Linked DNA regions of Homo sapiens: region 2 is linked to region 1. The links come from fine-mapping of genetic effects on gene expression. A gene starts in region 1. The other region holds a variant in brackets. All regions are shown on one strand. Distances are from middle to middle.

What was found.
Region 2: its variant is fine-mapped to the expression of RIN1 in whole blood (INTERVAL, PIP above 0.99).

Annotation. Positions count from the first base shown.
Region 1 is chr11:66,334,570-66,337,480 of GRCh38, forward strand. It overlaps RIN1 (Ras and Rab interactor 1), which reads right to left and starts at 1,865. Exons shown (of 10, transcript NM_004292.3): 1 at 1,748-1,865; 2 at 1,409-1,589; 3 at 1,193-1,307; 4 at 1,041-1,113; 5 at 838-929; 6 at 1-682. The coding sequence starts at 1,833. BRMS1 (BRMS1 transcriptional repressor and anoikis regulator) reads right to left here. Exons shown (of 10, transcript NM_015399.4): 10 at 2,770-2,911. RefSeq lists an enhancer at 2,345-2,911.
Region 2 is chr11:66,204,215-66,207,125 of GRCh38, forward strand. All of the region lies in intron 2 of PACS1 (phosphofurin acidic cluster sorting protein 1), which reads left to right. Among named protein-coding and RNA genes, the nearest start is that of KLC2, 52 kb to the right of the region's middle. The variant A/AT (reference allele first, on the strand shown) is at 1,444.

The DNA.
Region 1 (2,911 bases):
CGGGCCCGGCTCAGCGCCTGACGGATGCCCTGCAGCTCCTGGGGCTCGGGCCCAGCCCGCACCTGGGTCAGTAGGTCCTGCACCAGCTGGCCCGCGGCTGTGTGTCGGTCCTGCATCAGTGCTGCCGCAGCCCGGCCCACCTGCCGCTCCGGTGCCAGTAGGGAGCAGAAGGCGGCGCTCATGGACCGAAGCAGAGGTCGTCGGCGGCCCAGGTGGGGTGAGGTCGCTGGGCTCCCCCGGGACCCTGGCACCCCCTCCTCCTCGGAGCTGCTGGGGGAGCCGCAGTCCACCTCTTGGAGGGAGGGCATAGGCGGAAGGCTAGGGCCACTGCCTGCTGGCACGCGGTACCCCACTGAGCTCTCCCTCCGTAGCAGCTGGCAAGGGGGCAGCCGCTCTGTCTGGCTGGGGACTGCCCCTGGCAGCACGGGGACGGGGGGAGGTGGCACGGCAGGTGGAGACAGGGGGCTGGAGGTCTCTGTGGACACGCGCACTTTGAAGCTTCTCTTGAATTTCTCCCGCTTGGTGGGCCCTAGGTCCCCCGGGAACAGGGGGTTGAAGAAGCACAAGGCGGCTCCGGTGCCCTGGTCCAGCTCTTGAGGGGACCGGGCCTTCAGCTGGGGCAACACTGGGCCTCCAGCCGGGCCCCGCTGAGCCTTGATGTTGAGGGAGGAGCTCCAGAACTCTAGGGAACAAGAAACCGACTGGGGCCTCCGGGACTGGTTAGGGGAAGTTTCCCAACCAAGGCAAGGCAGGGGCTTCGGGCGGTGTGCTGCGAGCCTTGCCTTCCCCTCGGCCTCAGCTTGTTCATCTGTGCAATGGGTGGCAGGAAGCCCTTACCAATGCCCAGATGGGAGATGGCCTCCAGCTCTTTGTGAGTGGCTGCGTGGTGGATGGCTCTGGGGAGCTGCAGCGGGAGGAGAAGGATGTCCCTGAGGCCAGAGAGGGGAGCAGAAGGGAGTGAGGGCCGAAGAGGGCGGGAAGGATGGGCTGTCCCAAGGAGCAGGGCCCGTGGACACCAGGCACCCTGCGGGCAGACTCACCGGGTGTGGCAGTAGGCACAGATGAGCTGGACTAGGTCTGGGAACATGAGCTCCGAGCCCTCCAAGGAGACGCCTGAGAGAGGAGGGAAGTGAGGTGCTTCTCTGGGGAACCTCCCTGCTTCCAGCCCCTTCCCGCCAGGCCAGCCCCTCACCGCCAGGGCTCTCCAGGATGTAGTGGCTGGAGACGAAGGAGGGGCCACTGGCTTCAGGCAACCGCATGCACAGGGCCTGGCACTGGCGGGTGTTAGATTTCCGCACGAGGAACGTCTGCAAGTGGATAGGGCTCAGGCAGCTCAGGACCTTGGCGTCCCATCCCTCTCCCTCCCACCCCTGGCTGGCCAGTCCCTGGAGTGTGGGGCAAGACTCACCCCCGGGGGCTCGGTCCTCAGCATGTGCAGTGCGGCCGCTGCGTTGGCTTGCAGCTGCAGCCACACGGGCCGGGTGAGCAGCAGGCGCTCCCGCAGGCTCACAACGCGCCCCGGCCGCTGCGGCCCGCCTGCCTGCCCGCCGCTGGCATTGGGCACGTCATACAGTGGGTCCTGGGCTGGCCTGGGGGCAGGCACCCAGATCTGAGCAGGGAGCCAGGGGCTGGGACCCTTGCTCTCCTCTTCCCCACTCCCGGGTTTCCCACTTTCTCTATCCCCGGATAGGCCCTCCTCTCGCAGCCCCTCCCTGCCCCACCTGGCTGCCCTGCCAACTTCACTAACTTTTCTCTCGCCAGGTGCCCAGTAGTGAAGCTGGACGGGCTGGGGGCTCCAGGAGAGCCCGCGCCTGACTCTCCAGGGCTTTCCATGGCTGGGAGCTCCTTCGCTTCAGGAAGAGAATCCAGTCCCAAGGCAAGGCACGCACATCCCCAGTGAGTAACACTTCCTGAGGGCGGTCCGCCTGTCACACCCGCCAGTTAACTCTTGTGTGTCCACCCTGCCTGGCCAGTGCCCGCCTCCTCTGTTCTGGACCCTGCTTTGGGGGTCAGGGGTCCCCTCCATGCTAGCCCTGCTCTGAGGGCCCCAGCTGGGGGATGCCACCTCCACACACGGCCTCCTGCAGCCTCACCAGCTACTCACATTGCACACGTGGGCGGGAAGTGGTTAAGCGGCCTCAGTCCCCACAGGCCCCAGCCATGCTCTGGGGGCACCTTTGGCTCTGTGGTCAGTTGCTCATCTGCCCCTGGCCTCAGGTCAGCCTTGTGGGAGAGCACCCTCTACTGTCCATAGATGACTCATTCCTGAACCTGGGTTTTAGGATTTTAGGTTGCCATGGAGAAAATATGCCATGTCTCCATGGAAACCAACCTATTTGCTTAACTGAGGTTCTGGGGGTGGTTCTGACACTCAGTGCTAACCAGGGGGAGTCTGGCTGTGAGGTCGTCAGCACATGGCGGTGCTGCCGGCTGCCTCCCACGCACGCAGGCTCTGCCAGCCTGCCTTGCCAATCTGCCAGGCAACTGGGACAGGTGCAGACATGACCCAGGCTCCAAGCACACGCATCCACCCTCCCCGCCGAGGCACTCTCCCGGTGCCATATGTTGACTCTGCCCAGCGCCAGGCAGCCCAGCGCCCACCTCCCCCTCCCCAGCCTGGCCCCACGCACAGTGCTCTAGCCTCTGCTGGGTAGTGTGAGGAGTGGCAATCTGCAGGCACCCTAGAAGTCGGCCTGGTTCAGGTGCTCCCCACGGGAGCCCTGATTCTCTTGCAAGGTAAATCACACACACACACAGGGCACGCCAGAGTCCCAGGAAAGGTTTTAATTCCAGTCCTTGGAATCTGAGAAGCAGACACCAAGAACTGCCCTGAGAACACCTGGGGGGCCTGGCATCTTGCCTCCAGATCCAGCCAGGGTGGACAGACCCCCAGATAATCACGTCTGACTCA
Region 2 (2,911 bases), 130 kb before region 1:
TAAGAAATGGGCAAACGATCTGAATAGACATCTCTCAAAAGAAGACCTACAAGTGGCAAACAGGCATATGAAAGGGTATGTAACATCATTAATTGTCAGAGAAATGCTAATCAAAACTACAATGAGATATCATCTCACCCCAGTTAAAATGGCTTTTATCCAAAAGACAGGCAATAGTGAATCCTGGTGAGGATGTAGAGAAAAGGGAACCCTCGTACACTGTTGGTAGGAATGTAAGTTAGTATAGCGAATATGGAAAATAGTATGGAGTTTCCTCAAAAAACCAAAATAGTCCCATGTAGCACTATTCACAATAGCCAAGATTTGGAAGCACCTAAGTGTCCATCAACAGACAAACTGATAAAGAAAATGTGGTACATATACACAATGGAGTACTATGCAGCCATAAAAAAGAATGAGTTCCTGTCATTTGCAATAACATGGATGGAACTGGAGGACATTATGTTAAATGAAATAAGCCAGGTACAGAAAGACATACTTTGAATGTTCTCACTTACTTCTGGGAGTTAAAAATTAAAGTCATGGAGATAGTCTAATGATGGTTACCACAGGCTCATATGGGCAGTCGGGCAGTGATGATAGTTAATGGATACAAAAACATAGAATGAATAAGACCTGGTATTTGGCCAAGCATGGTGGCTCACGCCTGTAATCCTAGCACTTTGGGAGGCTGAGGTAGGAAGATTCCTTGAGTCCAGTAGTTTGAGACCAGCCTGAGCACCATAGTGAAACCCCATCTCTATTTTTTAAAAACTTTTTTTTTTTTGAAACGGAGTTTCACTCTTGTTGCCTAGGCTGCAGTGCAATGGCGCAATCTCAGCTCACTGCAACCTCCACCTCCCAGGTTCAAGCGATTCTCCTACCTCAGCCTCCCAAGTAGCTGGGATTACAGGTGTGCACCATCATGCCCAGCTAAATTTTGTATTTTTAGTAGAGACTGGGTTTCACCATGTTGCCCAGGCTGGTCTTGAACTCCTGACCTCAGGTGATCTGCCCGCCTCAGCGTCCCAAAGTGCTGGGATTACAGGCATGAGCCACCACGCCCAGCCAAAACAATTATTTTAATTATAAAAATTTTTTTAATGTTTTAAAGATCTGATATTTGATAGTGCAACAGGACGATTACAGTCAATGATAATTTATAGTACATTTAAAAATAACTAAAAGTATAATTGGAATATTTGTAACATAAATAAATGATAAATGCTTGAGGCGATGGATACCCAATATAACCTGATGTGATTATTACATGTTGTATGCCTGTACCAAAATGTCTTATGTACCCCATAAATATATATGCCATGTACCCATAAAAATTATTAGTTAAAAATTGAAATAAAGAATAAATGAAAAATAACAGCTTATTTTCAGACATCCAAGAAACCCCAACAAATTTCCTCAAATATCACTACAATACTCTTA[A/AT]TTTTTTTTTTTTTTTTTTGAGAATGGGATCTCACTATGTTGCCCAGGCAGCTCTTATACTCCTGGGCTCAAGCTATCCTTCCACCTCTGCCTCCTTAAGTGCTGGGATTACAGGCATGAGCCACCACATTCAGCAATAATACTGTTAAATATCTATATGATAAGAATTTTTGGTTTAAATAAGAAGCATTTAAAACAGCAGTAACCTGGCCGGTCACGGTGGTTCATGTCTGTAAATCCCAGCACTTGGGAGGCCAAGGCAGGTGGATCACCTGAGGTCAGGAGTTCAAGACCAGCCTGGGCGACATGGTCAAACCCCATCTCTACTAAAAATACAAAAATTAGCCCGGCATTTTGGCACATGCCTGTAGTGCCAGCCACTGGGGAGGCTGAGGCAGGAGAATCGCTTGAGCCTGGGAGGCGGAGGTTGCAATGAGTTAAGATTGCACCACTGCACTCCAGCCTGTGCAACAGAGTGAGACTCTGTCTCAAAATAATAATAATAAAACACCAGTAACCTAATTTTTAAAATAATATTAATATTGGATATTTTAATGTGCTATGTTACTTTAGTATTAAATATAAATGGTTTTGCTTCTATACTGCAAAAGAAGATATACTGTTATATAGATAAACAAATGATACAAAAGTATATTAAAAATAATTTTGAAATTGGACCCTGGTTGGTAGTGCCCCAGGCACCTGGAAGAAGCAAATACTGGAACCCATGAAAGCTAAACCCCTGGGGAAGGGTAGTAAAGATGAGGACAGTAGTGCACCATGCTTGAAAGGGCTGGGCTGGGCTGGGCCTGGCTGCGATCCCGTGACACACTGCACTCCGCATCCTGCTACCTGCACACGCAGATTACTTCTAGCGAATTTGAAATTCAGATAGTGAATTTGGGATACAAAGTTTTACAGGTATTTAGAGCACATACTTGGGTGGTGAGAGTTCATATAATCATATAATGAGGCTACTGCTGTTGGAAGGTGATGTCCTATAGTGACAATAACTAAGATAAAGGGGACCGAGAGGGCTGGGGTGGAGGAAGTTAACGGATTCCCTACGGTGGTCACGGTAGACCTGGTTGAGAAGATGACATTTACCCAAAGACTTTGAGGGAGGTGAGGGCCATGCAGGTATCTGGAGGAAGAGCCTTCCAGGCAGAGGGAAGACCCAGGACCAGGCCCTCAGGCCTTCATATTCTGTGAATATATGCTCTGAGCTGAGAAATCTTAAAAGAACCCTAAGCACTGATTACTTTTTTCAACTTTTATTTTGGAAAAATCTCAAACGTGCAAAAGTAGACGAAGTAGTTTACAATTCCCTCGAACCCCTTACTAAGCTGCAGTTGTTATCAACTTATGGCCAGTCTCGTTTCGTCTGTGTCCCCACTGTTTCCCTTCACCAGTGTTATTTTGAGGCAATCCGTACATCATAACATTTCACCCACAAATATGTCGATAT